Homo sapiens: one gene and its partners. The protein of the gene in region 1 binds, or shares a complex with, the protein of each later gene. Each region holds a gene or a part of one and is shown in the gene's direction. Other genes may lie near its edges.

Region 1 (7,505 bases):
CAGTTGCTTGCTATCCATGCTTTCTTTCCTGGCTCCTAGCACACCTTGCAAACATCTTGTTTATTTTGTCTCTTCCCACAAAAAACTAAGTTTCTAAGAATAAGGACTCTCTTGTTCAGTACCATATTCCCAGTGCCTACAGTAGAGTCTGAGATGTTGGAGGGACTCAAGAAATGTTTGTTGAATAAATCACTGTTTATGTTTTCTGGTGCTTCAGAATACTGCCATTTCCTTATTATATAGCAATAAATGGTCAGTTGGTTTAGGAGTTTTTAAAAGTGGGGTAACTTGAGCCCATTTAATGTTTTTCGGGCAGGTCTACTTGATCATCTTGATTTTGAATGTCTTGTTCTGAGATGTCATCAATGAAATTATAATTTGTTTCATGATAATTCAGCATAATTGAGACTATACTTATTAGCATGATGGTTGAGGAAGATTTTAGTTTTATTGCCACCTTTTCCTATATGTAGTAACCAGGAAATGCCTATAGCAAAGAGTGCCTGTCTTTTATGCTATCAGGAGGGGAATCTTTGAAGCAGGTGGACAGAAATCTATAGACTGTTGGAGTTTTGAGGAGACTAAATCTTCCACCCTTGAGTGAGAGTGTAGTAGGCCTTATGTCTAATCTTTGTAACCCAGTAGTTCCACATTGATATAACGTAGCATGAATGAGTAGGTAATTATTTTCTTTCTCACATTTCCTCTTTGCTGACTCCTTAAACTTACAAAGGCTGCCTGTAAGACACCTCAGCTTCTCTGTGATAGGATGTAGTACTAAGTAAAAGGAAAAATAAAAGATAATATTCACTGATACTAAAATTGAAATATTTAAATTTTAATCTGAATAATTATGTATAGTTTTGTCCTCTTTTATTACAAACTTGTATCATTTCAGCGCTCTCTGATTCTGTGACTTTAGTATTACACTGCAATGTAGGAGAAATGTGATCAATAATAGGAAGTAAATCTAGTTTTTCTCTGTACCTTTCAAGACTAAATGAGACTACAGAAATAAAGCTATTACATGATTAGAGAATACTGAAAGTGTCTCTTATGCAAGCAGTTATATTCTTTTCCCTTACTATTAATATCTATAATTACCCATGAAGTAATTTTTTCCCAAGACGAAAGCACACAAGGTTATTGTATTTGGAAAGTTCCTTCTGAGGGGACCTGGAACTACTCTTTTCTGTGCCAGTCATGGACAGCCATTAGTCCTTAGTGTCTTTGGTCCCGTATAGACAGACTTTGGCCTGTTTCCACTTGTACTCATTTAGTGTAACTTAACTAGTGTAAAAACAAAACTTCCCAAATGATTGCCCCATTAATTGACTGATAGGATCTACACTTCTGTTTACTTTTTAAAAATTGCATTGACTTTATTTTTTTGTTTACAAAAACTTCATTTTTCATTCTACATTCAAATGTTTTGTGAGAAAAATATACACAGCTCATTTTACCCTGTTAGAAATCTTTCAGCATTTGATGCCAGAGGATTATCTGAAATGTCTAGGTGAAATAGTACTGCTGTTTTGATCCTGTATTGCCCAGTAGTTTCTGGACCTTGGGTAATACACAGAGCAACTGAATGATTTTCAACCTAAGCACCTCAAATGTTACCTCCTCAGACTTTGCTGACACCCTCATTTCATTGCTTATTTCTTACTAACTCCACAACATTAGTTACTATCTGAAATAACTTTATATACTTATTTACTGTCTCCTCACCTAGAAAGTTAGCTCTTTTGTACTTTGGATCCCCACTGCCTAGAACGTAAATGATTGTGGAAAGAATATGTTAATATCTTAATCATCAATAAATAGTGCAATAACTTTAAATACTTATTTACTGTCTCCTCACCTAGAAAGTTAGCTCTTTTTTACTTTGGATCCCCACTGCCTAGAACATAAATGATTGTGGAAAGAATATGTTACTATCTTAATCATCAATAAATAGTGCTTTAAAAAAGTCTTGGAACATTGAAACTCAGTATTTTGGTTGTTGACAAATTCTCAAAGAGATATAAATTCTGCCTATTACTTTTTCTTTTCTAAATATCTTCAGACCCTTATTTAGAGCATAAACTCTAGCTGCAAATCAGTGGGAGTTGGTAGCCACTTAAAGAAAATAAAATTTAATTTGTATACCTAATTAAATGAAATTCTCAAAAAGTATTTGTTTTTTGAGATAGGGCCCCCCTCTGTTGCCCAGGCTGAAGTACAAGTGGCACTCACTGCAGCGTTGACTTCCCACACTCAAGCTACCCTCCCACCTCAGCCACCCGAGTGGGACCACAGGTGTGCGCCGTGACCACACCTGGCTAATTTTTGTTTGTTTTTGAGACGGTGTCTCGCTCTTGTTGCCCGGGCTGGAGTGCAATGGCACAATCTCGGCTCACTGCAACCTCTGCCTCCTGGGTTCAAGCAATTCTCCTGTCCCAGCCTCCCAGGTAGTTGGGATTACAGGCATTCGCCGCCACCACGCCGGCTAATTTTTTGGAGACGGGGTTTCACCATGCTGGTCAGGCTGGTCTTGAACTCGTGACCTCAGGTGATCCACTCGCCTCGGCCTCCCAAAGTGCTGGGATAACAGGCGTGAGCCACAGCGCCCGGCCACACCTGGCTAATTAAAATTTTTTTTTTTTTTTTTTTTTTGTAGAGACAGGGTCTTACTGTTGCCCAAGCTGGTTTCGAACTACAGAGCTAAAGCGATCTGCCTGCCTCGGCCTTGCAGTGTTGCGATTACAGACGTGAGCTACCACGCCTGCCCAAAGTATTTTTATCCAGCCTTCCAACCATATACAAGTTATTTCCTAAATTTCTCTGAGGATTACATCCCATTGTACGAGCTTCCTCATCCTGGAGGGGGAGTGAGTGAATGGATGGGGTTGCTGAAAATTTATAAGATTAGTTTGATACAAACTCTGATATATTTTGGTTCCATGGGTTAAATAAGACTGTGAGGTCACATGTGAGCAATGTTTTTCTTTTTTTAGAAAGCGTTTCTTCCCTGTAACTTGACTAAAATTCCACAGTTCCTCCCGTCTTCATACCTAAACATTAAGATAGATTTATTAAAAATCTAAATAATTAGCGTAAAGGGTTAGATATCTGTACATATATGTCTTTAGGCTTCCTGACTTCGTTGGTTTCACCTGATTTTGTTGGTTAACAAGGAAACAGCCTAACTCCTGAGCCTCCAATCGCTAGCTCTTCCAAGAGACTAATTCCCGGTGTCAGGGTTCTAGGCGCTAGTACAAACTGCCCGCAGTGCCTGCTCGAGGTCGTCTTTGCGGGGAGCCATGGCTGTGGCAGGGGTCCCGGCAGTTTCCTTCACCAGTCCCTGTGAGCCAGCCCCCGCGCTGTCCAGATCCCAGACCTCTCGCGGGCCGGCGCAGCCTTCTAAGGGCGGTCCTGGGGTCCTGGGCTCAAAGTCCAGCCTTGGCCGCGGCCCCACGGGTACGCTTGTGGGCCTTCCGTGCTCCAGGAGCCGCCAGACTCTGCCCGGCGCGGAATGGAGGTGTGAAGCCGCAGAAGCTAGGGAGGGGCTGACAAGGAAGAGTCGGTTGCCCGTGGTTCCCTACGCAACTCTGTGGGTGCGGGGAGTCGAAGCCTTCTGCACTCCAAGGCTCCTGGCATCGTCCCCGCGCCACCCCGGCGTACCCTCTGATGGTCGCTGACAGCTTCACAGGGGAAGATCGAGACTGACCCTTCTCCCGCTACACATCCCTAGCCACCTTCCAGTCCTGTCCTCTCGGCTCACGCCCCGCCCCTGCCACGTGACGGGACCCGCCAGTGAGCCTATGGGAGGCAGCTCCGCCCCACGCCCCCACCTTGCCCCTTGCTCCGCGCGCCGCCACGTGATGCGGCCCCCCTCCAGCCAATGAGTGCCGGCCTTGCCTCGCGCCCCGCCCCGCGCGCCGTGGCCGTTTGAAGTGACTAATTTCTGTCATATGACTGAGGCGCCCATGGGGGTGGCGGGGCGGCTGTAGGAGCAGGGGCCTAGCAAGCGCCCAGCGGAGCGACCCCTGCCTGGCCGTGGCTAGCATGGCCCCTACGCTGTTCCAGAAGCTCTTCAGCAAGAGGACCGGGCTGGGCGCGCCCGGCCGCGACGCCCGGGACCCAGATTGCGGGTTCAGGTAGGGCGCTGTGGGGCGGGGGTCGCGGAGCCGATGGCCTTGTGGGCTCCGGGCTCCAGGGGTGTTGGGGCCTTCGGTGTTCCGACCCGAGCGGAAGCGCCGCGCCGAGAGCAGCATCTGGTCCTCGGTGGGGTGGAGCCGGCTGCGGGCTAGCGCCGAAGGGTTGGAGCGAGGTCCTACCTTTTATTTTACCCCACCCGCCTCGCCGTTGCCCCTTCCCCCTCCTCCCGTCGGTTTGTTTACGACCTGCCCCCAGCCACGCGCGACTCTGCTCCTCCGGACCTAGCACCGCGGCCTGAGACTTTGGGTCCACACGCCTTCCTGGCACCGAGTAGAGTTGGGCGCGGGCTGGATTGGACCTCAGCCGCCGTACTCCGGGCCGCGAAGTTCTCCCCTCCTCCCCGTGACCAGTTGTCCTCCGGGCGCTGCGTTCCAGCTCCGTTGGCGTTGTGGAGAGAGCGGCACGTTTGGCCAAGCTTCTGAGTTGAGAGAAGGCTGGAGGAGCGAGTAGGCAACGTGCCGTTCTTTCAGGTTTCTTGGACGCTAAAATTGGAGGTGTGCAGTAACCGGACCGAGCGACCTTAATGTTATCGAAGGAGAAATGTGAAACTTGAGTTTAGGGTTACTGCCGAAGGAAGACCAAATTGAATGAAATCTGGCCTTGGAATTGGCTGTAGATTCTTCCTCCTCGAATTGTTACTGAAAAGGAGTCTTAAAAATTGAAAATGTTAGTAGAGCATTTTGTAGTGTTACAGGCTTTGTTAATTTTTCATTGTAGTACCTGTTGCTGGCAGAGTAACTTTTCAGAATTGTAAGATTTGATATAAACCTGAATTCAAGGTAAAATTTAGTCGTTAAACTGCACCTGAGGAGATTATGTCCAAACAGCCTTTATACGTATTGCAGTGTGGAAACTTGCAAATATAACTAGGCTAAATGTCAAATGCCACACGTTTTAAACTTGGTAGGATAGCAAAGAGCCCAGTTGTACAACAATAGTAGAAACAAAAAAATAAAATAAAAATAAAAAAAGAGAATCTGTCAAATTTTGGAACAGGCGAAGTTGCCACACTGGTTTAAGAAATTTTGCTATTCTTAAAATTATTCACTCTCTCTTGCTAATGCAGGTCTCATCAGGAAAAATTCAGTAAATGCATATGGAATTGAAGAGGTTTTTCTACGTATCTGTCTTTTCCCCTGAAAAATAAATGTGTCATGCTCATCTGTCTCTCTTTAAACATTTCTTTAGTGTTTTTCCTTTGAAAAATGAAAGTGCAGGTTAGATAATACTACATTGAGCCATCTAGTAACTCAAGCGACAATAGGAAACAGGTTCCGATAGGATATTTAAAAGGTGGCATTTGAATAGACAACTGCTTTCTATTTCTGGACAAAGATTGACTTTGGGTACGTAGGTTTACAAGGCTCTCAAGTCACTCATATGAAAAAACATTTTCACGTCTGGTTTTCAAAAATGTAAAGTCTACTACATAGTTGCGTAATACTATTTTACAGTTACCAAAGAACTTTCTCATCAGTTATCTTATTTGATGTTTCACAGCAATCTTACGAGATAGAGCAAGTAGCAGTGCAGATAACTATATACTTTTGCCAGTGGAAGTAAGAATTATCTGTAAGCCCAATAACTGCAGTACATTATGGAATCTCTCACTTTAAAAATAAAACTTGTGCATGTGAGAAATGAAAACTGATGAAACAGAATAGGCATATCTGAAGGAAAAAAAACCATTCTGGTTAATGTCACATAGCTAATAACTTACAGATCTAATCAACCCAGGGTTTTTTAAAAACTATTTCATTGAGCTATAATTTATACACAATAAAGTATAAATACATTTTAAGCATACATCGTATACAGTTGTGTACCCACCACCCCCATGAAGTTTTAGAACACTTCCATCACCCAAAAAGTTCCCTCATGCTCTGTTGTAGCCTAACTCCTCCTCACCCGTGGCAGTCACTGATACTTTCTGTCATAGTCTTGTGTCTGTCTTGTTTGTTGCATTTATTAGTTCCTTTTTTTCTCACTCTGTCAACAGGCTGTAGTACAGTGGCGTGACCACGCTTAATACACTGTCAACCTCCTGGGCTCAAGGGATCCTCTCACCTTGGCCTCCCAAAGTTCTGGGCTTACAGGGATGAGCCACCACACCCAGCCAGTTCCTTCAATTTTATCACTGAATGGTATTCCATTGTATGGCTATACCATGATTTGTTTATTCAGCCACTAGTTGGAGGACATATTTTTTCCCCAGATTTGGGCTATTATGAATAATGCTGCTGTTAATGTTTGTGTATAAATCTTTATGTGGACATATATTTTCTTTTCTCTTGGATAGAAATCTAGGAGTGGGGTTGCAGAGTCATGTGCTAAATGTTGTGTTTAACTTTAAAAAAAAATTGTCAGACTTTTCCAAAATAGTTGTACCATTTTGTATTCTCAGTAGCAATGCATGAAGGTTACAGGTTCTTCACAATCTCTTCAATATTGATATTGTTATTTTTGTTCTTTTTTAATTAAAAATTTTTATTGTAAAAAAAATATGAAATTTACTTTTTTTTTTTTTTTTTTTTTTTTTAGATGGAGTCTCACTTGTTGCTCAGGCTAGAGTGCCATGATACAATCAAGGCTCATTGCAGCCTTGACCTCCTGGGCTCTAGTAATCCTCTCACCTCAGCCTCCTGAGTAGGCTCCTAAGTATCCTCCCACCTTGGCCTCCCAAAGTGCTGTAATTACAGGCATGAGCCACCATGCCTGGCCAAAATTTACTGTCTTAATCGTTTTTTTATTCTTTTGATTATAGCCATTCTAGTGGTATCTTGTGGTTTTAATTTGCATTTCCCGAAGATCATATTCAGCATCTTTTTATATAACCCAGGTTTTTGAGTAGACTAACATTTTGTTTTCATTCTAGTATACCATGCTTTCATTGCTGGAATCCTTTTTTGGGTGTTTTGTTTTGTTCTAGTCAGCCTAAATTGTTAAATCAGGCTTGGGTGTAGTTAGCCATTGGCAACTAACTGTAGCTCAGTCCCTAAGAGGCAGTTCCTAGAGTAACCAATATACAAAGCTCAGTAATTGTAAGCCACAGCAGGACTTTAGAATAGGAGAGACTTCCGATAAAGAAGCTTTAGGAACCTTTCTGTATTGTCTTTTATGGTTACCCCATTGGAAGAGATGGCCAGGAAATACCCCCTTCCCTTGTCTTCACTCTAAGGTCTCTTACCATATCGATTTCTATGTGCTTATCTAAGATTCTTGAGCTGGAGATGAGTTTGAAAAATATTATGGGGAGTGTATTTTTTCAGTCATTTATAGAATTGAGACAGTAATTTGTTTTC
Region 2 (7,473 bases), on another chromosome or scaffold:
ATTAGTGGAGAGAGGTTAATTTTTAAAAGCTTACAGAAATTGCTATGGTAAGAAATATTAAATTAATCCTAATGGCCTTTATTGAACCACTAATAACTCATACCTCGCAACTGACTGGATGCCTTATGTGCAGAGTTGATTGTCTAATTACCTAAAACCTGAACTTAGAAACTGTGCATGGGCTAGGCTGGGCGCAGTGGCTCACGCCTGTAATCCCAGCACTTTGGGAGGCCGAGGCAGGCAGATCGAGAGCATCCTGGCTAACACAGTGAAACCCCGTCTCTACTAAAGATACAAAAAATTAGCTGGGCCTGGTGGCAGACGCCTGTAGTCCCAGCTACTCAGGAGACTGAGGCAGGAGAATGGCATGAACCCTGGGGGCAGAGCTTTCAGTGAGCGGACATGGCGCCACTGCACTCCAGCCTGGGCAACAGAGCAAGACTCCGTCTCAAAAAAGAAAAAAAAAAAAAAAAAGAGAAAGAAAGAAATTGTGCATGGGCTGGGTGCAGTGGCTCACGCCTGTTATCCCAGCACTTTGGGAGGGCAGATCACAAGGTCAGCAGTTCGAGACCAGCCTGACCAACATGGTGAAACCCGTCTCTACTAAAAATACAAAAATTAGCTGAGCCTGGTGGCATGCGCCTGTAGTCCCAGTTACTCGGGAGGCTGAGGCAGGAGAAGTGCTTGAACCCGGGAGGGGGAGGTTGCAGTGAGCGAAGATCACGCCACTGTACTCCAACCTAGCGACAGAGTGAGACTCCGTCTCAAAAAAAAAAAAAAAAGAAATTGTGCATTTATCTCACCTTCTGAAATGTTACTCATTGCTTGCTGCCTTTCAGCAGCTGGCCAGACTCCTAAACTGTTCAAAACATCTAAAAACGGAATGTTTTCTCAGTTGCTGGAAGAAACAAAAACTTAGATCATTATTTTTATAACAGGGAATCAATTATAGTAACTTGAAAATATGAGATGTGATTAAAAATATTAAATTGAAATGCTTACAAATGAAATACACCCCTTCTTCCTGAAACTGGAAACTAAGAGTCATTGACATGTGGTTTGACTGAAAGATAAAGCCCAGCTGTATCCTACAGCTACATCAGAGCCCCTGTGGCTAAGGGTACATATAAAAAACTCTAAAACAAATTTCTGAATAAGATGTGACTTTTCCCTGCCACTTGGCTCTATGGTCCTGGCAACTGATGCCTTGGAAGTGATTGATCAGTTTGGATACTCAGCTATAATGAAGCCTCTTGGTTTAGCAGTAGTAAGAAGGCAGAAAAGCATCAAAAAACCTTAATTCTGATTGAGCCTATTTCAGTGGTGGAAAAAAATCTTAATTCTGATTGAGCCTGTTTCAGTGGTGGAAAAAACACATTCTGGATTGTATGCATGCCAGGCAGTAACATATCCAGAGCTTCTGGAATCATTTCATACAATTTCCATTATGGGATAGAAGCTTTGAGATTAGCATTGCATTTCATTTGGTTGTGAATTGTTGAACATTATTGGTATCTGTGCTTTCTGAACATTACTGCTGAGTTTCAATTATCTTTCCCATGAGAATGGGCACATTTTCCGACTTCTAAGATGTCCCTTTTGTTGCATGACCTTGAAAGTTTTTATACCCCATGAGAGCCCAATTTAAATAACCTTTGGTACAATTCACTGAGGCAAAGATTTGGCAGTTGTTAATTTTTTTTTTAAAGATTTATAGGTTTATTTAAGAAAGTACCTCCAAAAGAGGTAGGTGGCTGAAGCCAGTGGTGTTGGGAAAGATGTTAATGGCCTAAATTGAGCCCAGGTGTGGTAAATGCACATTGACTTTTACTGAAAATACACTAGTTGAATAACCTTCCGCCATTAGCCTATCACCATGGAAATAAGGATAATCTGAGCAAGGTGGTGAACTCCACTAACAAACTGAAAAAGGTAATTCCTGGAATTAAAGTTACAAGGTGAAAAAAACCTTGTTCTTGACTTAAAAATCTCATTAACAAACATTAGTTTCAAGAACTTGAACCCGGGAGGTGGAGGTAGCAGTGAGCCGAGATCGCGCCACTGCACTCCAGCCTGGGAGACATAGCAAGACTCCGTCTCTAAAATAAAATAAAATAAAATCACCCTGTAACTTACTACCTCCTCAGAAATTAAGTTTGCGCTGTCCAACAGCAAGAGGAATTCGCTTGATAAGAATAATTAAACACATAAAGGCAATGCCTAACCTCGTAACGCCACCCCATATTCCTTAATCTTTACCAAGCCACTATAAGACGGCAGAAAACACAAGCTGCACTTTCGTTCTTTTCTCGTGTCCCGTTTTCAACAGACCATGGATTTTTTTTTTTTTTTTTAGATGGAGTCTCGCTCTGTGCCAGGCTGGAGTGCAGTGGCACGATCTCAGCTCACTGCAACCTCTGCCTCCCGGGTTTAAGCAATTCTCCTGCCTCAGCCACCAGAGTAGCTGGGACTACAGGCGTGTGCCACCACGCCCAGCTAATTTTTTTTGTATTCTTAGTAGAGAGGGGGTTTCACCTGTTGGCCAGGATGGTCTCCATCTCTTTACCTCGTAATCCGCCCACCTCGGCCTCCCAAAGTGTTGGGATATTATAGGCGTGAGCCACCGCGCCCGACCAGAACATGGAAATTTAAAGAGAAAAAAATAAGTGACTTCTGATTTCAAAAACACAACCACCCACTTTTCTATTCTATTCCTGGTGAGCACATTCTGGAGACTCTGCGGCAACCATAGCCTCGGCCGCGGCGGAAGGCTCCGGGGCGGCCACACCTCAGGGGGCAGCCACACCTCAGGGGGCAGCGCGCACAGGCGGGTCAGGCTCTGATTCCCATCTCTCTCCGGTCTTCACTGGAAGGACCCACACTACATCACAAACTAATGGCTTTACAATTAACTTCTAAGTAGCTAAATTTAGTAATGGGCGCTCTAGTTTTAAAAAATATTATTCAGGCCGGGCGCGGTGGCTCACGCCTGTAATCCCAGCACTTTGGGAGGCCGAGGCTGGTGGATCACCTGAGGTTAGGAGTTCAAGACCAGCCTGGCCAAAAGGGTGAAAACCCGTCTCTGCAAAAATACAAAAAATTAGCCAGGCGTGGTGGCGGACGCCTGTAGTCCCCAGCTACTCGGGAGGCTGAGGCAGGAGAATCGCTTGAACCCGGGAAGCGGAGGTTGCAGTAAGGCGAGGTCGCGCCACTGGACTCCAGCCTGGGCAACAAGAGCGAAAGCGAAACTCTGTCTCAAAAAAAGAATATTATTCAAAAACTGATTTTCACATTTTTAAAAAAGACCCACTGAGGGAGGAAGACCGAATCCCACACATGCGCGCGCACAGCGGTTCCGAGTTCTGCAACCAACCTCCCACGGGCGCCGCGCCTTCTCCGCGTCACGTGACGGCCGTCTCCCGCACCTTCCATACTCTCAATGTAGGGAGAGGACGGGTTCCATCAGCAATTTAATAAAAACCATTGGTGAAGCAAAAAAAAAAAGCCTGCCAACCTCTTATAACGTTTTTTCTTTATTTTTCTCTTTTATGTGGACAGGAAGCCTTAGGTTGGCTATATTTACCCTCAAATCTCTTTTTAAAATGATTTTTAAGTTTCAGCATACTCCCGCGCTTAATGAAATGGTTTCCCCCAGCATCCCCAGCTGGTGCGGTCTGAACCATTCGGAACTTCCCAGAGGGGGGCACCGGAATAGGGGCGGTGGAAAAGGGTAATTGTCGGGCAGCGGCCCCTGCTTCCCAGTCAGACCTCGGAGTTGTAGGACTCGGACTGTGTTCCTGGGCTTGCGAGAGCTAGGGAGGCCCGGCTCTCCTCGCGGTGCAGGACGCGCTCGGACGGCTCCCGCACCCCCACCGCAGTGTTGGGTGGTGGTACGGCTCAGGGAGTCACGCGCCTGGGTGTCGGCGGGGCTGCGGGACCGCGAGTGAGTGTGGTCGCTCCTGGTTCTGCCAGCTCCCCTGAGAGCCTGAACCCGGGCTTGAGAGCCTCGCCACCCCGGGTGACATCCCTGCCGTGGGCTTGGGGGCTCTGGGTGTGATTCCGCCGGTCCGGGTCCCGCAGCGACCACCTACCCAGCGCAGTCAGGGGCGGGGCTGGGACCCAGAGCGGGACCCCGGCTGCCGAGTCCAGGTGTCCCGCGGGCCTCGATTTGGGGAGCAGGTAGGCGGGGGTCTGAGGGGTTGGCGGAGGGGCATGTCCGAGTTTTCGTTGGTCCCAGGTGGACGAGTAATGGGGGAGGGTTTAGGGCCAGAGTCCAGGGCGTCGCCGAGACCCTGAGATTTGAAGATAGGTTGGGGGCACGCCCATTAACCAAGTCTATGGGGATGAGGACTGTGATCTCATTTGATGTTGCCATGAAACGGGACTGTTTGCCTTCCCTTCTCCCAGGTTTTGTCTTCGCTCTGTTTGGAGGAGAGGGTGTGTGTCATCCTCTTCTCCCAGTTTGGCGTTCAGGAGGGTCCTCTGATGCGCTAATAGGGTAGCACCGTGTCCTCCAGGGAGGGTGGAAGACCGCGCTTCTCTCCAGTTGAGAGTACTGTCAGTCGCGTCCTTGTCTCCTGGAAAGAATGGATTGGCTTGTGGATTGAAGTCCAAGGTGTGGTCACTAGCAGTCTCTTCAAGTGGGGACACAGGGCAAGGAGGAGCTTGCTGGAAGTAGGTTCTGGCTCTCTAGCCTTTGGCCACAGCCAGTTTAGTGCCAGATTATCACCGTGGTCATCAAGTAATTGAGTAATAGTGGCAGGTGACACTGCGTTTGCCCTTCTAGTGTCCTATGTCAGGGAGCTCTGTGAATGGAAATCCAGGGAAACGGTGGAAATAGAGCCACAGTGAGAGTGGATCTGAACTGGCAGTCATCCCCTGCAGAACTTTTCACCCTGGGCTTGTTGGGATCCCAGCTGCTAACTTAATGAGGCTCCCCAGTGGGAGACTAGTTATAGAAGCTGTGTGTCCACTGCTGGTTAAGATCCGTTATAGTGCTTTGTTTATTTAGAGTGCCCTTACTTAGTGGCCTCTTTAATTCTCCACGGTGCTATGAGAACACCATAGGAAGTAGGGTTGAAATAGGGCCAGGGCGCACCACGGGTGGTGGTGAGGTCACTGTCCAGGTCTGGGACTCAGCCATTGTGGGAGGGGGACATGAACAGACACTCTACCACATCAGGGAATTTGAATACTGTCTTTGGATATGTTGATGAAGAGACTGTCAGCCAGGGCATTTCGGCTTCCTATGTGGGTTCTGGAAAGCTTGTTGGAAACAGACTCGTGAGACACACTCAAACCAGTTTGTTTTCTTCAGCAAACACCTGGTAGAGATTGGAATTGAACAGTGAGTGAAGAATGACCTCACGCTGCCCAGAATTCTGATTCCATGTGTAATGCGAATTCTGAGAGGCCTCTGTTTCTCAGCTTTTGGGTGGTATTCAGAGAGGTCTAGTAACACTTGGTGTCACCTGGCTGGTGAGGGCAGGCTCCGGTGACCGCAAAGCTAAGTGCTCTGTAGGGCACCTCCCTCTCTTTCAGGGGCTGCCTGGGCCTCTGGTGCACATGATCCATGGAGTCAGAGTCAGAGCTCTCGTCTGACAAGTGCTTTTGCTTTCTTTCTTTCTTTCTTTCTTTTTTGGAGACAGAATCTCATTCTGTCGCCCAGGCTGGAGTGCAGTGATGCGATCTCGGCTCACTGCCACCTCCGCTTCCAGGCTCAAACGATTCTCCTGCCTCAGCCTCCTGAGTAGCTGGCACTACAGGCACGTGCCACCAGGCCTGGCTAATTTTCGTATTTTGTATTTTTTGAAATGGAGTTTTACTCTTATTGCCCAGGCTGGAGTGCAATGGTGCGATCTCAGCTCACTGCAACCTCCGTCTCCCAGGTTCAAGCAATTCTCCTGCCTCAGATTCCCCAGTAGCTGGGATTACAGGCATGCACCACCACCATGCCTGGCTTTTTTTTTTTTTTTTTTTTTGAAATGGAGTCTTGCTCTGTGGCCCAGGCTGGAGTGCAGTGGTGCGATCAGCTCACTGCAAGCTGTGCCTCCTGGGTTCACGCCATTCTCCTCCCTCGGCCTCCCCAGTAGCTGGGGCTACAGGCCCCCGCCACCATGCCCAGCTAATTTTTTGTATTTTTTAGTAGAGACGGGGTTTCACTGTGTTAGCCAGGATGGTCTCAATCTCCTGACCTCGTGATCTGCCCACCTCGGCCTCCCAAAGTGCTGGGATTACAGGCGTGAGCCACCGCACCCAGCCTAATTTTTGTATTTTTAGTAGAGATGGGGTTTCAATATGTTGGCCAGGCTGGTCTCGAACTCCTGACCTCGTGGTCCGCCTGCCTCGGCCTCCCAAAGTGCTGGGATTACAAGCATGAGCCACCACACCCGGCAATTTTTCTATTTTTAGTAGAGACAGGGTTTCACCATGTTAGCCTGGCTGGTCACAAACTCCTGACCTTAGGTGATCTGCCCTCCTTGGCCTCCCAAAGTGCTGGGATTACAGGCTTAAGCCACTGCACCCAGCGAGTGCTTTTCATTAAAAGGAAAAACGAATAAGAGTAGCCCATGTTTTGGCCAGACATGGTGGCTTATGCCTGTAATCCCAGCACTTTGGGAGGCCGAGGAGGCGGGAGAATCACCTGAGGTCAGGAGTTCAAGACCAGCCTGGCTAACATGGCGAAACCCCATCTCTACTAAAAATACAAAAGTTGGCTGGTCCTGGTGGCGCACGGCCATAATTCCAGCTACTCGGGAAGCTGAGGCAGGAGAATTGCTTGAACCTGGGAGGCGGAGGTGGCAGTGATCCGAGATTGCTGCACTGCACTCCAGCCTGGGCAACAGAATGAGACCCTTCCGCAAAAAAAAAAACAAACCAAAAAAAAACAAAACAGTGTAGCCCATGTTGGCTCTGGGTGCTGGGAAGTGGCTTGTCAGCGTTGCCTCTGGTTTCCCTCTCCTGCTTGAGAAGGAAACTGCCAGGCCTATGGCCTGAAAAGTAAGTTGGTGTGATGTAGATGCTGCCAGAGCACCCCCTTATAACCAAGAGTAAGAAAGATGGGGACTTGGCTGGATGCAGTGGCTCATGCCTGTAATCCTAGCACTTAGGGAGGCTGAGGTAGGTGGATCACCTGAGGTCGGGAGTTCGAGACCAGCCTGGCCAACATGGTGAAACTCTGTCTCTACTAAAATACAAAAATTAGCCAGGTGTGGTGGCAGACACCTGTAATCCCAGCTACTCAGGAGGCTGAGGCAGGAGAATCACTTAAACCTGGGAGGCAGAGGTTGCAGTGAGCTGAGATCACGCCATTGCACTCCAGCCTGGGTGACAAGAGTGAAACTTGGTCTCAAAAAAAAAAAAAAAAAAAAAAAAGGAAAGATGGGAACTTGCAGCCTTGACCTCCCAGGCTGAAGTGACCTCCCAACTTAGTCCCCCAAGTAACTTGGACTAGAGGCATGCCCGGCTAATTTT
Region 3 (8,486 bases), on another chromosome or scaffold:
GCCAGTGTGGATAGCCCTGGGGTAGCAGAGCCCTCCGTACCCATAGGAAAGCTACCCTTTCTACCAGAGCTGTGCTTCTTAAACAGACCCTCAGGAGGATTCTACTTCTGATGAGTCAACAAAAGGAGTTAGGGTCCCCTGGGCCAGCAGCAGTGAGATGGCCTACAGGGTCTGTGTTTCCCTCTCTACTTATCCCCCACTTCCCATCAGGACATGTGGGCTTGGGTATTCTCTGCTGGACCCTCCTGGCATTTTAATTTTCCAAGAGCTCATTTATGAAAGAGGGAAGAAAGAAGAGGAGAAGGTGGTTAAAGTTCAGGACCTAAATTTCTTTACCTTAGAGTAAAGGTAACCATAGAGTTCCTTTCCCAAAAGACATCAAGACTCTTCAATAAATATTTGTTGAATTTTTGTCATGCTCTGTTGCACTAGGGATGCAGAGATGAAGACACTCTTCCTGTCAATGAAAAGTAAACGTAAGGGCTGGGTGCTGTAGCTTATGCCTGTAATCCCAGCATTTCGTGAGGCCAAGGAGAGCAAATTGCAGGAGTTCGAGACCAGCCTGGCAACATGGCAAAACCCCATCTCTACAAAAAATACAAAAAATTTAGCTACACATGGTAGTGTACACCTGTAGTCCCAGCTACTCAGGAGGATGAATCACGAGCTCAGGAGGCAGAGGTTGCAGTGAGCCAAGATTGTGCCACTGCACTCCAGCCTGGGTGATAGAGTAAAACCCTGCCTCAAAAAGAAAAGAAAAAAAAAAGAATAAGAATTAAAAAGAGAAAAGAATGAACTTTTTCAAAAGTAAACATAAAAAATTACAATATAATGAAACAAATGCTCTAATACGGATGTCATGGAACTTTTCCTGTCACCCCAGAAATGGTTGCCAGCACTCAAAACTAAGAACAAAGAATTGTTAAATACCCCACAAGCTAAAGAAAGTAGAAAACAAGGGTCAGATACTTTCCCCAACCATCACTCCAGCCCCTAGCACTTGCCCAATTTATATATACTATTCCTCTCCCATTGCCTACTTGCACAGGGGCAAGACAGCAGCAGGGCAGAGAAAGCGGGGGTGGTAAGGAGTAGCCTGCTCTCTCACCTCCCATGTGGCAAGGACATGTGAGCCAGCTATCATCCTCTTCCTACTTGATTTCCCTTCAAAGGCCTTCCTTATAGCTTAAAAAGCAATCGCCAGTCTTTCGGAGAATCCTTTTTTTTTTTTGAGACAGGGTCTCATTCTGTCACCCAGGCTGGAGTGCAGTTGTGCAATCTCAGCTCACTGCAGCCTCAACCTCCCGGGCTCAAGTGATCCTCCCACCTCACACAAAGTACTTGAGACCACAGGTGCGCATCACCATGCCCAGCTAATTTTTGTGCTTTGGTAGAGACAGGGTCTCCCCACGTTGGCTAGGCTGGTCTCAAACTCCTGGGCTCAAGCCATCCGCCCACCTAGGCCTCCCAAAGTGCGGGGATTACAGGCGTAAACCACCATACCAGGCCTGAAAACTACCATGCCTGGCCTGAGAATCCTTTAATCACTGATCTAGCTTTGAGATAATTTGAGATATCCTTGGGCTACACTGGCCAATACTGTGGCCACTAGCCACAGGTGGCTGCTGAGCACTTGAAATGCGGCTGGTCTGAATTGAAATGTGCTGCTAACTGAAAAATATACCCTGGATTTTGAAGACAGTACTGGAGAAAAAATATAAAATATCTCATTAGTATTTTATCAATCACAAGTTGAAATAATATTTTGAATATATTGTTTGAATAAATAAAATGTTATTAAAATTAGTTTCATCTGTTTTACTTTTTTTTGAGACAGTCTCACACTGTAGCACAGCCTGGAGTGCTGTGGCTCAATCTCGGCTCACTGCAACCTCCAGCTCCCGAGTTCAAACGATCCTCCTGCCTCAGCCTCCTGAGTAGCTGGGACTACAGGCACGCACCATCACACCCAGCTAATTTTTGTATTTTTAGTAGAGATGGGGTTTCGCCATGTTGGCCAGGCTGGTCTCAAACTCCTGACCTCAACTGATCCACCCATCTCGGCCTCCCAAAGTGCTAGGATTACAGGCGTGAGCCACTGCACCCTGCCCTGTTTTACTTTTTTTTTTTTTTTTTTTTTTTTTTTGAGACAGAGTCTCGCTCTGTCGCCCAGGCTGGAGTGCAGTGGCGCGATCTCGGCTCACTGCAAGCTCCGCCTCCCAGGCTCACACCATTCTCCTGCCTCAGCCTCCTGAGTAGCTGGGACCACAGGCGCCCACCACCACACCCGGAGAATTTTTTGTATTTTTAGTGGAGACAGGGTTTCACCGTGTTAGCCAGGATGGTCTCAATCTCCTGACCTCGTGATCCACCCGCCTCGGCCTCCCAAAGTGCTGGGATTACAGGCGTGAGCCACCGCGCCCGGCTGTTTTACTTTTTTTAATGTGGCCACTAGACTATATTGCCCAGGCTGGACTTGAACTCCTGGGCTCAAGGGATCCTCCTGCCTCAGCCTCCTGAGTAGCTGGGATTATAGGCACGTGCCATTTCACCAGGCAGTACTTATGTTTTCTAATGCTAAGTTTTAAACTGCTTTTTCTAAAACTTATATGGCCTGTACTGTGTTACCCCTAACTTAACATGAATAATTTCTCTAGAGCAGGAGTCCAAGACCCCTGAATTATAACATTCAAACTGGAATTTTGGCTGGGTGCAATGGCTCATGCCTATAATCCCAGCACTTTGGGAGGCTGAGGTGGGCGGATCGCTTGAGGTCAGGAGTTTGAGACCAGCCTGGCCAACATGGTGAAACCCCATCTCTACTAAAAGCACAAAAATTAGCCACGTGTGGTGGTGCATGCCTGTAATCCCAGCTACTCGGGAGGCTGAGGCAGAAGAATCGCTTGAACCAGGAGGCAGAGGTTGCAGTGAGCTGAGACGGCGCCACTGCACTCCAGCCTGGGCGATAGAGCAAGACTCTGTCTCAAAAAAATAAAGAAATAAACAAACTGGAATTTCAAGGAAGCTGCAAGCTTCACTATGACAGCTGCGGAATAAAAAGGGACTCTGAATGCCAGTGCAGTGTATTGGACTTTGGTTCAATACCAAAGTCTGGTATCTTCCGATCTGGGAGCTGGGCCCCAGATTGGAAGGTAGGCTGTGAGTAAAAAGCTGGAGGTGACAGAGTTGGAAGAAACTTAGTGCAAGGAATGATCCACAGAGGGGGTGAGGCTTACCAATTTGAGTAAATTAGCACCACTTTTTCGGGAGGCAATTTGTAAGTATGTATCAAGAGTCTTAAAAAATGATCATGTCCTTTAACCCAGTCATTCCATTTCTAGTAACTTATAAGGAAATTTTAAAACTGCACAGATATTTAGCTATGAGGATATTCAACCAGCATTGTAATAGCTAAAACAAAAAACAAACAAAAGCAAAAAAAAAAAAAAAAGTCCAAGTACAGTGGCTCACCTGCAATCTCAGCGCTTTGGGAAGCCAACGAGGGAGGGTCACTTGAGACTGGGCTACACACTGAGACTCCATCTCTACAATTTTTTTTTTAATTAGCTAGGTGGGGTGGCGGGTCCCTGTAGTCCCAGCTTCTTGGGAGGCTGAGGTGGGAAGATCGCTTGAACCTAGAAGGCTGAGGCTGGACTAAGCCATGATAGTGCCACTGCACTCCAACCTTAATCCACAATTAAGATACAGCTATAAAATGGAATATTTTGCAACTACTACAAAGGATGTAAGTGAAAACTTGACATGGAAAGACATTTATTCTAAACTCTGTAAAGAAGGCCAGCTACAGAATTGTACCTCCAGTATGTATGTCAATTTTGCTTACAAAACAAACAAAACAAAAAAAACCATGCTAGGCGTGGTGACTCAGCCTGTAATCACATTTTGGGAGGCTGGAGTGGGAGGATCTGTTGAAGCAAGGAGTTTAAGACCAGCCTGGACAACACAGCGAGACCCCCATCTCTACAAAAAAACGTAAAAATTAGCCAGACATGATGGCTCGAGGCTGTGGTCCTAGCCAGTCGAGAGGCTGAGAGGTGAGGATAGCTTGAACCCAGGACGTCCGGGTTGCAATGAGCTATAATCGTTCTACTGCACTACAGCCTGGGTAACAGAGCAAGACCCTGTCCCCCAAAAAATTTATTTTAAAAAGGCAAACGAAAAAACATTAAAAGTATACATTTACAAAGACAACTATCTGAAAGGATATTCTCCAAGAAGTTAAAAGTCGTCTTTGGACAGTGGGGCCATAGATGTTTTCCTATTTTTACCAGCTTTATAATTAATTTTTAAAAGTTATTTTCAAGTAGTCCTACCCAGTCTTCCTTACGAGTTAGGACTCAAATGCCACTCTCTTCCCCTAAACTGTCCTGAGTCCCCTCACCATAATAAGCACCAATGTCTTCGTTAAAATCCCGACACTGCCAACACTCAGCTAGGGGGTTGAACCTTGCTCCATCTCGTCCTTTAGTCTCTGTGTGCGTCTTTCCCCCTACAAGCCTACTGACCCCCTCCAAGAGGTCCCGTGTCTTCCCCGTACTTGCCCCACAGGCTAGATCAGACCCTGTCTGACCCCTGGGTTATTGTAAAACTTAAGATCTGTCCCCTAGGTCTCGGAGTCGGTTGAACTAGGGTCCAAAGGTTAAAAAACACTGACACAAAATGCCAGGCCACGAACTGAAGCACTGAGGCCCGGCTGCAGACCTCTCCCGAGAGGGGAATAATCCGTGCCGGCCGGTTCCGCCATGGAGCCAGGTGCAGGTCACCTCGACGGTCACCGCGCGGGGAGCCCAAGCCTTCGTCAGGCTCTGTGCGACGGAAGCGCAGTGATGTTTTCCAGTAAAGAACGCGGACGTTGCACCGTGATCAATTTTGTCCCTTTGGAGGCGCCGTTACGGTCCACGCCCCGCTCGCGTCAAGTGACTGAGGCCTGTGGTGGAGAAGGACGTGCCGTGCCGCTGGGTTCTGAGCCGGAGTGGTCGGTGGGTGGGATGGAGGCGACCTTGGAGCAGCACTTGGAAGACACGTGAGTAGTGCGCGCCTCTTCGGCCTGTCCTGAGGTCGCGGCGGAGGAACTTGAGCGGAACGAAAGGCGCGAGCTGCGAGTACCGGCCAGGGCGTCTCGGGGACGTCGCGCGACCCCCGGGACACGGGATGAGGGGGCTAAACTCTACCCAAGGCCGCAGGGCGGGGCGGGTGACCCGGAATTAAAATCCTGCCGGGCACCGCACATTCCCTCTTGAGCGAGTCTCCCGGGCCCAGGCCACGGGCCAAAACTGCCTATCTCGTTGTTGAAATCGTCTTTACGGTCAGGGTGGTTCTGCGGAAGTTTTAGAAAACGGGTTGACTTTTGGGAAGATTGTGCCAGTTGTGCAGTGTCGAGCCCTGCAGTGTAAACAAACACGTATCTCCTGTGTGTAACCTATCAGTTACTTGGTGCTTAAGTAGATAAAAATCATTCTTTAAATTTTTCGAACAAGCAGTATCTATGTAAAATTCAAAACTGGAAAAGTGTAAAGGGTACAGAGAGACACCTGCCTCCCACCGATGTCCCTCAGCTTCCACTTACCCTCCAGGAGGTAACTTGAGTTTTTCAACAGTTGTTTTAAATGAGTTAGTACTAAAACATGCGTTTTTAACAAGAGTGAAAACATCCTAGATGTTTTTCACGCAGTGTTTGTGGCCCTCCAGAACTCAGCAGTACTTAGCACATTTTTTTCTCTCATCAGAGAGAAACTGGTTTATTTCAATTAATTAACTAGAACTTAAATTTTTTGTGTTCTTTTTTTGAGACGGAATTTCGCTCGTCTTCCAGGCTGGAGTGCAATGGCGTGATCTCGGCTCACTGCAACCTCCGCCTCCCAGGTTCAAGCGATTCTCTTGCCTCAGCCTCCCGAGTAGCTGGGATTACAGTCATGCGCCACCACGCCTGGCTAATTTTGTATTTTTAGTAGAGACGGGGTTTCTCCATGTTGGTCAGGCTGGTCTTGAACTCCCGACCTCAGGTGATCCGCCCACCTGGGCCTCCCAAAGTGCTGGGATTACAGGCGTGAGCAACCGCGCCCGGCCCTAGAACTTAATTTTTTTCTTAGGGTGTGACAATGAAAAAAGATTGAGAAATATTGATTTAAAGCACTTAATGCCTGGTACATAGAACACCTGTATGTTTGTACTTATTTAAATCCTTTTTCTCCCATTATGTACTTCAACTCTCTTGTGTTCCTGGAATTAGAATGAAGAATCCCTCCATTGTTGGAGTCCTGTGCACAGATTCACAAGGACTTAATCTGGGTTGTAAGTATCTCTCATACCAACTATTTGATGAATTGCATAGCATCTGATGTTGACTTGGAGCCTAGCGTGCTATTATTTTCTAGCTTTTATTTCCTGTTACCTTGCCAGGTCTTTCTGAGTTTGAGAGTAGAGATTATCTCCAAATAACAGTATCAGAAAATTGAAACTTTTCAGTTGGTATTTATGAAGGAAGATGTTCCTTGCAGTCCTATAACAATAAATAGTTGTCTCTACTAAAAATAATATTTGAATCATTTTAAATTGAGTCTAGAAAGGACTTCAGATAATAACAGCTGTTAACCATTTATTGAATGTATGCCATATGCTGAGACTGCTAGGCTCTAAATACATTATCTTTAATTTTCACAACAACCCGGCAAGGTGGGTGGTGTACAATTTTGAAGCTCAACTACACTAAACAAGAAGTGAATAGGCAGTAAAATGGGATTTCAGTGTTGGACATACCTGGTCTCAATCCCTTGCTCTTTCATTTGTTAGTAGTGTGAACGTGGACCAAAAAACTACCTTTTAGGCCCTCATTTTCTTCACTGGGTTGTTATTTGATAATGGTAATAATCATAGAATTATATTTATTGAGCTGTTATGTGCCAAGCACCATTGTAAGTGCTTTACATATACTCTTTTATTCCTCATAACAACCCAGTGAGGTAGAAAAAGAAATTGAGGGACCAGGTGCAGTGTCTCACGCCTGTAATCCCAGCACTTTGGGAGACCAAGGTGGGCAGATCACTTGAGCCCAGGAGTTCAAGACCAGCCTGTGCAACACAGTGAGACCCCCCATCTCTATTTTTACAATAAACATATATATATGTTTTTAAAATTTAAAAAAAGAGGCCGGATGCGGTGGCTCACACCTGTGATCCCAGCACTTTGGGAGGCGGAGGCGGGTGGATCACCTGAGGTCAGGAGTTCGAGACTAGCCTGGCCAACATGGTGAAACCACATCTCTACTAAAAATGCAAAAAAAAATTAGCCAGGCATGGTAGCAGGTGCTAGTAATCCCAGCTACTCGGGAGGCTGAGGCAGGAGAATCGCTTGAACCTGGGAGGCAGAGGTTGCAGTAAGCCGAGATTGCACCATTGCACTCCAGCCTGGATGACAAGAGCGAGACTCTGTCTCAAAAAATAAAAAAAGAAACTGAGACACAGAGGTTAAATAACTTGCCTGAGGTCATGCAGCTAGTAAGTCGTTAAGCTAGGATTTTTGTCTGGCCCTGAGGCCTCTTAATCACTTTTTTTTTTTTTTTTTTGAGACGAAATCTTGCTCTGTCGCCCAGGCTAGAGTGCAGTGGCACGATCTTGGCTCACTGCAACCTCCATTTCCCAGGTTCAGGCAATTCTCCTGCCTCAGCCTCCTGAGTAGCTGGGATTACAGGCGCCTGCCACCACGCCCAGATAATTTTTGTATTTTTAGTAGATACAGGGTTTCACTATGTTGGCCAGGCTGGTCTCGAACTCCTTATCTCAGGTGATCCACCCACCTCCGCCTCCCAAAGTGCGGGATTACAGGAATGAGCCACTACACCCGGCCTAATCACGATATTTTAAGGTTATATAATATGTATAAAATGCTTACATAGAACTGAGACATAATACTTAATAAATGGTAGCAATTACACATGAGGAAATAAGTTTGGAAAGGTAAATAAGTAAAGCATTCAGTTAATTAGTGACAACTAGTAAACCCAAGACTTGTTGCTCCTAATGCAGGAATGTTTAAAGCTCTGAATTTTTGCTGGAAGGGTAACTGAAAGAGGTAATCGGTGTAACTCAGTTATGTTTAACATGCAGATCAGTCATTTGGGAGAAAAAGGGTAAATTTTTGGAAGCATTTGCTAGGCTTACTAATGGAAAGACTGAAATTCAGGTATGGAAATCTAAAACTAAATGAGTTCCTTCAAGAAACCTTCAAGGCTCAAACGTCGGCATCGGATCTGGTCAAAATGTTTTGTATAGTAATAGTACATCCAAATGCTCTGCCATAGTGGCATGTCTATTACCTGATTTGGTTTCAGGTACAGTTAACTTTGTGTTGCCTTTATATACAGAAATATATTGTAAAGTACACTTAGTAATTAATTTTCGTACCTAGAATTTATAGGTACTTTTGTACCCGAGATTTAGTTACTATAATATATACAGACTAATACAGAC
Region 4 (8,231 bases), on another chromosome or scaffold:
TACTTCATGCCAGGTCCTGGCTTAGCTTCCCATGAGTGTTCTCACATTTCCTCTGACCTCAGAACCTAAGAAGTCAGGATCAGTATTGTGATTTCCATTCTGAAGAAGCTAAGGTTCAGAGGATGCATGCTTTGCTCAAGGTCACGTAGCTAACAAGAGGCAGAGTAAGAGCTGGACCCAAATTTGCTGGGTTCCAGAGACCTTCCTCTTAGCTGTTTCTTTCGTCATCCGGCAGAAAATAATGTGCAGATGACTTGGGACAGGAGGGCAGGAGCTCACACACCATCCAGCATCACAGTCCCCAGAGTGGAGGTGCTTCCTTCTCCTTAGATGGGAGTCCTTCACAAGGGATGTCTGGGGGCAAGGCCTGGGGTGACAAAAATCTGGGTTGGGGAGATGGGAGGCTGACCATGTGCTCATCAAAGCCGGCCAGGCGGATGAGTTTTTCAGCCACTGCTGCCGTGCGTGGGTCCCGCTCCACAGTAAGAAGGCGACCCCCAGGGGGCAGGGCTCGGGCAATAAGCAGGGTAGAGTATCCACAGTAGGTTCCCAATTCCAGCACACAAGCAGGGGCCTTCTCCTCCACCAGCCGCATCAGGATCTGACCTATGAGGGGAGATGGCTGTTGCAGAAGACATGGGAGATGGATGCAGGGCCCCTGATAAAAGATATCTCAAATGCCTACCTGCCTCACTGCAGCTCCCAACCAGCCGGGGTCTCATCTGTCTCTTGTACCATAGCCCCAGCTGCCCTCCTGGTCCCCGTCTCCTACAGTGTAGTCTTCACACCAGCCCTGGAATCTTTCCAACAAATCTGACCTTATTACTCCTTGGCTCCTGTGAGCTGAAGGCCTTTGGGATTGAACTTGGGATTCTCAGCCTGGCATTCAGGACCTTGGACCTGATCCTATCCTACCTTTCCAGGTTCATCTCTCAGTACTTCCCACCTGTGGCCTGTATCACAGCCATCCCAAACAACTGTGCCCAGAATCCATCAAGCTGTCTCATTCCTTCATGCCACATGTGTATATGTGGCTGGCTTTGCCCTTCCCACCCCCATCGCCATCTGCCTGGCCAACTCAGAACTTCCAGATTCAGTTCAAATGTTGCTCTTTCTCCATGAAGTCCCAGGCAGAAACAACCACCCTATCTTTCAGATTTATGAAAGGTCTCTGTTAGAATTTGTAGTTTCATTCCCCTTTTATTGCTCATCAAATGTATTTCTGATCTTGGAATTGGATGAACTTTTATTTATTTATTTTTGAGACCAAGTCTTGCTGTGTTGCCCAGGCTGGAGTGCAGTAGCATGATCACGGCTCACTGCAGCCTTGACCACCCAGGCTCAGGCAATCCTCCCACCTCAGCATTTCCAGTAGCTGGAACCACAGTTACTCACCACCACACCCGGCTAATTTTTAAATTTTTTGTAGAAACGGGGGTCTTGCTTTGTTACCCAGGCTAGTCTCGAACTCCTGGGCTCAAGTGATCCTCCTGCTTTGGCCTCCCAAAGTGCTGGGATTACAGGCATGAGCCACCATGCCCAGCCAGTGAATTTCTTTTCTTTTCTTTTTCTTTTTTTTTTTTTTTTTGAGACAGGTTCTTGCTCTGTCACCCATGCTGGAGTGCAGTGGCACAATCACAGCTCACTGCAGCCTCAGCCTCCTGGGCTCAAGCAATCCTCCCACCTCAGCCTCCCAAGTAGCTGGGACCACAGGCATGTGCCACCATGCCTGGGTAATTTTTGTATTTTTTGTAGAGATGGGTTTTTGCCATGTTGCCCAAGCCGGTCTCAAACTCCTGAGCTCAAGCAATCTGCCCACCTCGGCCTCTCAAAGTGCTGGGATTACAGGCACCAGCCACCACACAGCCGAATTTCTTAAATAAGACCCTAAAAGCACTTATGCTGGGATTGAGATAAATCCAGGCAGACAGCTACCCTAAATGGTATGTGGAAGCCTCCATGGTGGAGAGGAAAGATGTGGAGACAGATAATTACAAAGCTATGGGTTATCTGCTGAGATGGTTATTCCACTGTGTATTATGGTTCCTTTGAGGCCAGCATTTGTGGCTCATTCATCTCTGTGGCCTCTACCCCTCTCCCTGGCACCTAGCACATTCCTAATACAAAAGAGGTGGCAATAAATGTTTGCTGAATAAATGACTTAGTCCAAGCTCCTCATTTCCAGATGAGAAAAAAAAGAGGCCCTAAAAGAGGATCAAGAACCTGCCCAATTCATCCAGTTAAGCAGCAACAGATCCCAAATATTCCTTCACTGTCTTGGGGGTACTTCTTGGAGCAGAAGGCTAGGGAACACTGACCTTTGACAGGCCCCATGTGGCTCAAGTACTCGCAGCGGCTGCTCCAGTGGTCCAGGGTGGTGAGGATGTGACCAGGGTCACCGGGCAGGGCATGGGTGAGCACGTAGCTGAAGGCCCGCTCCTCGATCCGCAGCCCTGACAGGCAGTCTCGGAGGCTTCGCAGCAAGACCGTGCGCACCAGCAATCGGAAGTAGTGCCGGTACCGCACCAGCAATGTTACCACCAGTGGCAGGAAGGCCAATGCAATGGCAGGGGACATGGTCCCTACCTGGGCCCTGGGGTGGAGGGAGGTAGGGAGGGAATCCCATACCCACAATTTGCCTATTTGTGTAGCTTTTGCCAGTAGCAATTATTATCCTTATATTTCACAAACCACGGCTCAGAAAGGCTAAGTCTTTTGTCCAGAGTCACAGAGCAGAACTGGGATTTGAATCCAGGTTAGTGTGATTCCAAGCCTGTGTACTTTCAAGGACTCTATACTGTCTACTTTCAGCACCCAGCCCCAAACCACCTCTTCCCGGTCCCAACCCCTGGTCCCATCTTCACATTGTTCCCCTGACTTGTTTCTCTTTATCCTTGAAGTCACCCCTTCTTCAGGACCCCTTTCACTAATTCACCTCTGGGATATCTTCCCCCACCCCTACCCTCTGCCTGCCTGGTCTCCTCTGACCACTGCTGTGTAGCAAAAGAGCATAGATTTGCAGTCAAAAACACCTTCACTATCACTGTGCCCTGCCTCAGTAAAATGCAATCAAAATACCCCATAGGGTGTTAGAGTGAGATGTCCTCTTTCCCACCCCAGGACTCTCCCTCTGCCTGCTCTTCCCTGAGGATGGGAGGAGTCTTTGATTCTTTAATAATTCTCCAGCCCCATCTCCTCTCCGCTGTATTCCCCTCTTCTCCTGTGCTGTCTCAGAATTCCCTTCACAAATGTGTACATACACATAACACACAGCACACATTTTCCCTCTACTCAGCTCTTCTCTCCAGGGACCTATGGGGAATGGGCCTCTCCTCCCATGTCCTGGACCATTCTCCTCCTCATCCAGATCTGACCTCCTTGCCGGCCTTCTTGCAAGGCCCCTGGTGATGGCGGGGAGTAAAAATGAAAGAGTGTATGGATGGGTGTGAATAGGTGAGTGATGCGGTGGGCTTGAACTGGTGAGCTTGGGAACCCACAATCCAGGGCCCTGCTTACCTGGGCTGGAGGACCAGAGCACAGGACAGGTCGGGGAGTCCAGGGCCTGCTGCGGGGGATAACCCTGAGGTAGGAGGCTGGAATGGCTTTCAATTATTCATGCTGAGGCTGCTGCTGTCACCTGAGACCTGCAGTTCAAGTTACCAGCCCCAGGGACGAGCTTGAGCTGCCTCCTACCCTTCAGGAACCTCAAAAGATTTACAGAACCTCAGGGTCTTGATTTGAGGGGTTATAAGAGGTATGAGATCTGGTGACTTCTCCAATACTTTGGATCAGAAGATGGGGCATGGGGTGAGCCAAGGTGATGGGGTGACTGTAACATGCTCATTGATATGCAAGTTTTCTGTAAGCAAGGCCATGCCTTGGGCTACAGGGAAGAGTCAGAACCTGTCACTGTGCTCCAGGAACTCCCAAGTTTGGTAGGTGAGACTGACCCAGGAACAGAGAATACAATATAGTGTGATCACTATTGGATGTTCCATGACTACAGGGACTTTGGCTGTTTTGTGAACTGCTGCATATCCAGATATAACAATGTGTGGCACATAGTAGACGCTCAGCAAATATTTGTTGATTCAATAAATGCATGAATTAACACTGGATGAGGATTAAGCATAGGGAGCTGGGCATGTCCAGAGAATGGAGTCAGAGAAGGTAATCAGGAGGACATTGTACTGAGTCTCGAAGACAGTAAAGACAGTAGGCAGACCAGGCTGCATGTACAAAGTCCAGTAGATCAATCAGGAAACTACATTATTTCTCTATGTCCAGTGAAACACATTGCTGACCCCTCCACCCCTCACCCCAGAACATGCAGTGGGAGAGGTGTCAGGCTCTTGTTATGTCAGACGGGTAATGTGCCAAAACAAGATTTGAGGGTGGCACATTTGATACATGCTGGTGAACACCCAATCACACGCTCATGAACAACAAATGGATCACTATACAATCTTGGACGGACTTGGACCTGTGTTCAGGGCCCAAGGGAAGACATGGAGCGGGGGTTAGGAAAAGAGAACTGATGGTCAGCTTTGTGCGTTCGATTACAATGGGTGCTGTTAAAAAAGGCAGAATTAAAGATAAAAGCCTGAAAGCAGAGAGGTCAGTGAGGTGGCTTCTATCTCCTCTACCAGGATTTATCTCCGCTGCGCGTCAGCATGTGAAGGTAGTATAAGGTCCCTTCTTCCTGTAAGTCGCAGATCCCCAGCCCAGGTGGAGAATACACCCTCTGTGTATTCACCCCCAGCCCAGCTGGGCGATACACCCTCTGTGTTCCCCGACTAGGTACTGGTCATCTGGATCATCTGTGTGTGTGCACCCAGACCGTACGATCTGGAGCATCAGGCCTGGATCCCAGTCGCCCCTCGCATGGCATTTAGAAGAGTATATCACAAGGGCATACGAGGGCATTTGGTACGAGTTCGCTCAATGGCCCAGAAAAGTGGCCTAGTGGCCACGAGAACGCATAACACAATTCACGATGGCCACTACTGCCAGTTTAGAGACTGGAAAGATGAAGTCATGTGATCCGCCCCGCCCTTTCCCCGCATCACGTGCTTGCGTGTACGGTTACGCCTTCCCATTGGTTGACAACGATCACGCGCTAGCGGGCGGGACCGGAAGCCGGGGTATTGACTGAGGCGGCCAAGCGGCTCCGGGACAGGGGGTACGGGGGGTGGGGGCGGGTGGTTGCCTGCGGGAGGCCGCCGCGGGTCATGTGACCGGAAGGGCTCCTCACGGACGCCGTCCCTCCTCGGCGCGGCCTGAGCGCCCGGCCCGACCCCGGCCATGGGGTGCTGCTACAGCAGCGAGAACGAGGACTCGGACCAGGTGCGGCCGCGGCAGGCGGGGCTCGGGAATGAGGGCTAAGACACTGGGGCATGGGGCCCAGAAAGAAACCTGCGGAGGACGGGCAGCCGGACTGCAGGGCTCACTGAATACGGAGGCCTGGAGGGGACAGATTACAGAGGAGACGCCAAGCCGGGCTCCTACCCCTGTTAAAGCCCCAGATTTCTACACAGTCCCCGCCTCGGGGTGTGCAGGCAGCCGCCTGTCCGGCTCGCTCCCACCACTTCCGTTTGCTCCTACCTTCAAAACTTTTCAGATTCAAGGATCCTCAGTCTAGGTCCCCGGGAAACACTCCCTTCCCCAGCTTCCTGTGTCTTCTGTGTATTAGTGGGCTTTGCGAATCCATTTTAGGGGTGGGTAAGCTGAGGCCCTGAGTTAGTCTGTCCTGAGATGAATCAGGAATTCGTGTATCGTCTTAGTCCCTGGGGTTGCAGAAGGAAGGTCGCTGCTAGTCTAGGGCCAGGGGACGACTCTGGAAGTTGGTGGCCTTTGAATTGGCCAATGAAGGATTTAATCGATACAGTGAGGACATCGGGACATGTGGGAAATTGTCTGGGAAGCAACAAAGAGGATTTAGCTTTGGCTAGATTGTGGGAAAAGAGAAATGGAGCGGGAAGTTCATTTGGTTCTGAGTTTGGCTTGCCTCAGTGCAGTCTGCCTGGGGCCTGAGGGTTCCTTTAGCTGGAGACATGCCTATTCTGAGAATTTGGCTGTAGATCTGATACCTTTGGAGAAAGGGTTAGGCTGGGGAGACCTGTACAGTTTTAAATTCTCCCTCTTCCTCTTAGTGCATTCTCACTTCTCCCCACACTCTAATCCCTGCCCTGCCTGGCCTGACATTCAAGGATGAAGTCTCAAGTTGCTGTCTACTCTCCTTTTTTGATCGTCTCTAAGCCCGGATTCTACATTTGAACATATAGTAGACCTGAGAGAGTAGAAAGGTTTCAGGTAGCTCACGGTCTAATGGGGAAGATGGTCACAAAAATAGATTATATCACTGGTACTTGGGAAGTAGTTCGTTCTTCAGTGAACGTATTTTGGATTAAGGGCTTAAGCCTAGGAAAATGTCGTTTGTATGGGAAGCAAGGGTGGCTTCTGGTTCTCAATTCTCCATACACCCAATGAACACATATTTCCTTTGCCCTGTGTTAGGCATGTGTTGTGCCTAATACCTCTCACTTCACTTCCACCTTTTTGAGAAAGAGACAACAATAACCCTGCCTACTGGGAGAGCTGTAGCCTAGTGGGAAATTGTCCCTTAAAGCATAATATGGACTCTTGCAGGGAATGAGTCAAGAAGGATTAATGCCGTATGAGAAAGGATACAAGCTTCTACTTGGAAGGGAGAGCTGGGCCTGCTGCTCTCCTGAATCTCTACCTTCTCCTTGGGGGGCTCTCATTTCTGTTCCTAACACCCAGAGAAGGTGCTTAATCACTGCTGGGTGATTTGAGGCCTCATGTAGCAAGGGCCATAACCATCCACCATCCCACAGTCCCTCTTTGAGTTCTTGGGCAGGCCCCTCTCCGACTCTCATCTCTGTCTCTTTATCATAATAAAAAATATACAACACGTTACAGTTTACAAAGGGCCTTCACAGTTATCTAATTTGACTCTTGCCAGACATCCGTCATATTAGTGTGGGTTATGTCTATTGAAAGGTGAGGAAGAAGTTCAGAGAAGCTAAGTGATTTGGCCAAGCTGAGAAGTGCTAGTGCCCAGGTGTTCTGACGCTAGGCCATGTACTTTATCCATGGGGCCAAGCTGTCTCAGCCATGCCCCTAGACCAGGTGGCCAGTCACGGGCAGGCTGCTATGTCTGTGCTAAGGTAGACAGTGAAACCCTGCCTCTTGGGTTACACTAATGCAGAGACAAACCTTGATGTGACAAACCTAACCCATGCTCCACTCGCACTTTGGGAGTGGGGTGATGTTTGTCTGCTCTGAAGTAGGTAGCATGGCCTCTTCTTTAAGTCTGGGTTTCAAGAAAATAACCTTGTTGTTCACTTGATCTTAGCTGAAGGCTGAGAAGTGATCAGCCAACCTTCTTCTTGAAGAACCCCTGATAGGGAAGAGACTACCCTGTCCTGCAGGAAGATCTGTCTGAAGTGGAGCTGGGAGGACAGACACATAGGAAGCTAACTTGGGCCTCATTATGGAGCCAGCTTTCCTTAGAAATACATAGTTTTATCTTTGGCAAACATTTTGTCTTTTTAGCTCTTTAATACTGAGCCTATGTATTTAGGGAGGAAGGGTGTCTGGGAGTTTATAGAGGTGATGGGGCAAAGCCCACAGCTTCTGTCTCTTGCTGTTGGGAACTGGATCAAATTGCCTGAGGACACTTGGGCAACCTAGCCTTGAGAAAGAAGAGTAAGGTGAAAAGGCTGGGCCTCCCTAAGCAGGGCAGGAGGAAGTAGCCCTCTACAAGGAGAGTTGTGGAGTTGTGGGCAGGGGAGCTGCGGCCTGCAGCAGGAAAGACTGAGGAACTGAGATAGGCCTGGAGGGGAGCATTGAGGAGTCTGGCACTGAAGGTTGGTGAGTCAGCATTAGCCAGGATGTCCCCCTGGGCCCATCCTTGGCTTTGTTCAGGGCACTCTTGCTCTTTATGGGTTGGATAGATACCCAGCAGGTCTGTTTTTCTCATTTACTGCTGATACAGCAAGCAAGGATTTGCAGCTGATGGTCTCAAGGCAGGGTCAAATCCAGAAATATTACAGTAGATAGAACAGGGGACTGAAAGAGGACAAGGAGGAAGACCAAACCAATGAGGAAGCTTGGTTTGGTCTTACATTAGTTCAGGGGTTGTGATTATCAGCACAGGCCAGCAGGAACAGGGCTGCTGAAAATTTACATGGGCTACTCAGGTGGTT

The links.
Region 2: FNIP1 (region 1) and FLCN share a complex: the UniProt entries of both Homo sapiens proteins name them as parts of the lysosomal folliculin complex.
Region 3: FNIP1 (region 1) and LAMTOR5 share a complex: the UniProt entries of both Homo sapiens proteins name them as parts of the lysosomal folliculin complex.
Region 4: FNIP1 (region 1) and LAMTOR1 share a complex: the UniProt entries of both Homo sapiens proteins name them as parts of the lysosomal folliculin complex.

What each region holds. Positions count from the first base shown.
Region 1 is NC_000005.10:131,793,467-131,800,971, reverse strand, and holds the start of FNIP1 (folliculin-interacting protein 1), read left to right. Parts: upstream 1-3,954; 5' UTR 3,955-4,050; coding exon 4,051-4,142; intron 4,143-7,505. UniProt on the Homo sapiens protein: Binding partner of the GTPase-activating protein FLCN: involved in the cellular response to amino acid availability by regulating the non-canonical mTORC1 signaling cascade controlling the MiT/TFE factors TFEB and TFE3.
Region 2 is NC_000017.11:17,233,618-17,241,090, reverse strand, and holds the start of FLCN (folliculin), read left to right. Parts: upstream 1-3,922; 5' UTR 3,923-4,179; intron 4,180-4,407; exon of another isoform or gene 4,408-4,615; intron 4,616-7,473. UniProt on the Homo sapiens protein: Multi-functional protein, involved in both the cellular response to amino acid availability and in the regulation of glycolysis.
Region 3 is NC_000001.11:110,404,144-110,412,629, reverse strand, and holds the start of LAMTOR5 (ragulator complex protein LAMTOR5), read left to right. Parts: upstream 1-5,009; coding exon 5,010-5,044; intron 5,045-6,250; coding exon 6,251-6,312; intron 6,313-8,486. UniProt on the Homo sapiens protein: As part of the Ragulator complex it is involved in amino acid sensing and activation of mTORC1, a signaling complex promoting cell growth in response to growth factors, energy levels, and amino acids.
Region 4 is NC_000011.10:72,100,298-72,108,528, reverse strand, and holds the start of LAMTOR1 (ragulator complex protein LAMTOR1), read left to right. Parts: upstream 1-5,231; 5' UTR 5,232-5,304; coding exon 5,305-5,346; intron 5,347-8,231. Other genes in the region: ANAPC15 (anaphase-promoting complex subunit 15), read left to right, coding at 924-1,178; TOMT (transmembrane O-methyltransferase), read right to left, coding at 410-606, 2,319-2,577; LRTOMT (transmembrane O-methyltransferase), read right to left, coding at 410-606, 2,319-2,593, 3,517-3,565. UniProt on the Homo sapiens protein: Key component of the Ragulator complex, a multiprotein complex involved in amino acid sensing and activation of mTORC1, a signaling complex promoting cell growth in response to growth factors, energy levels, and amino acids.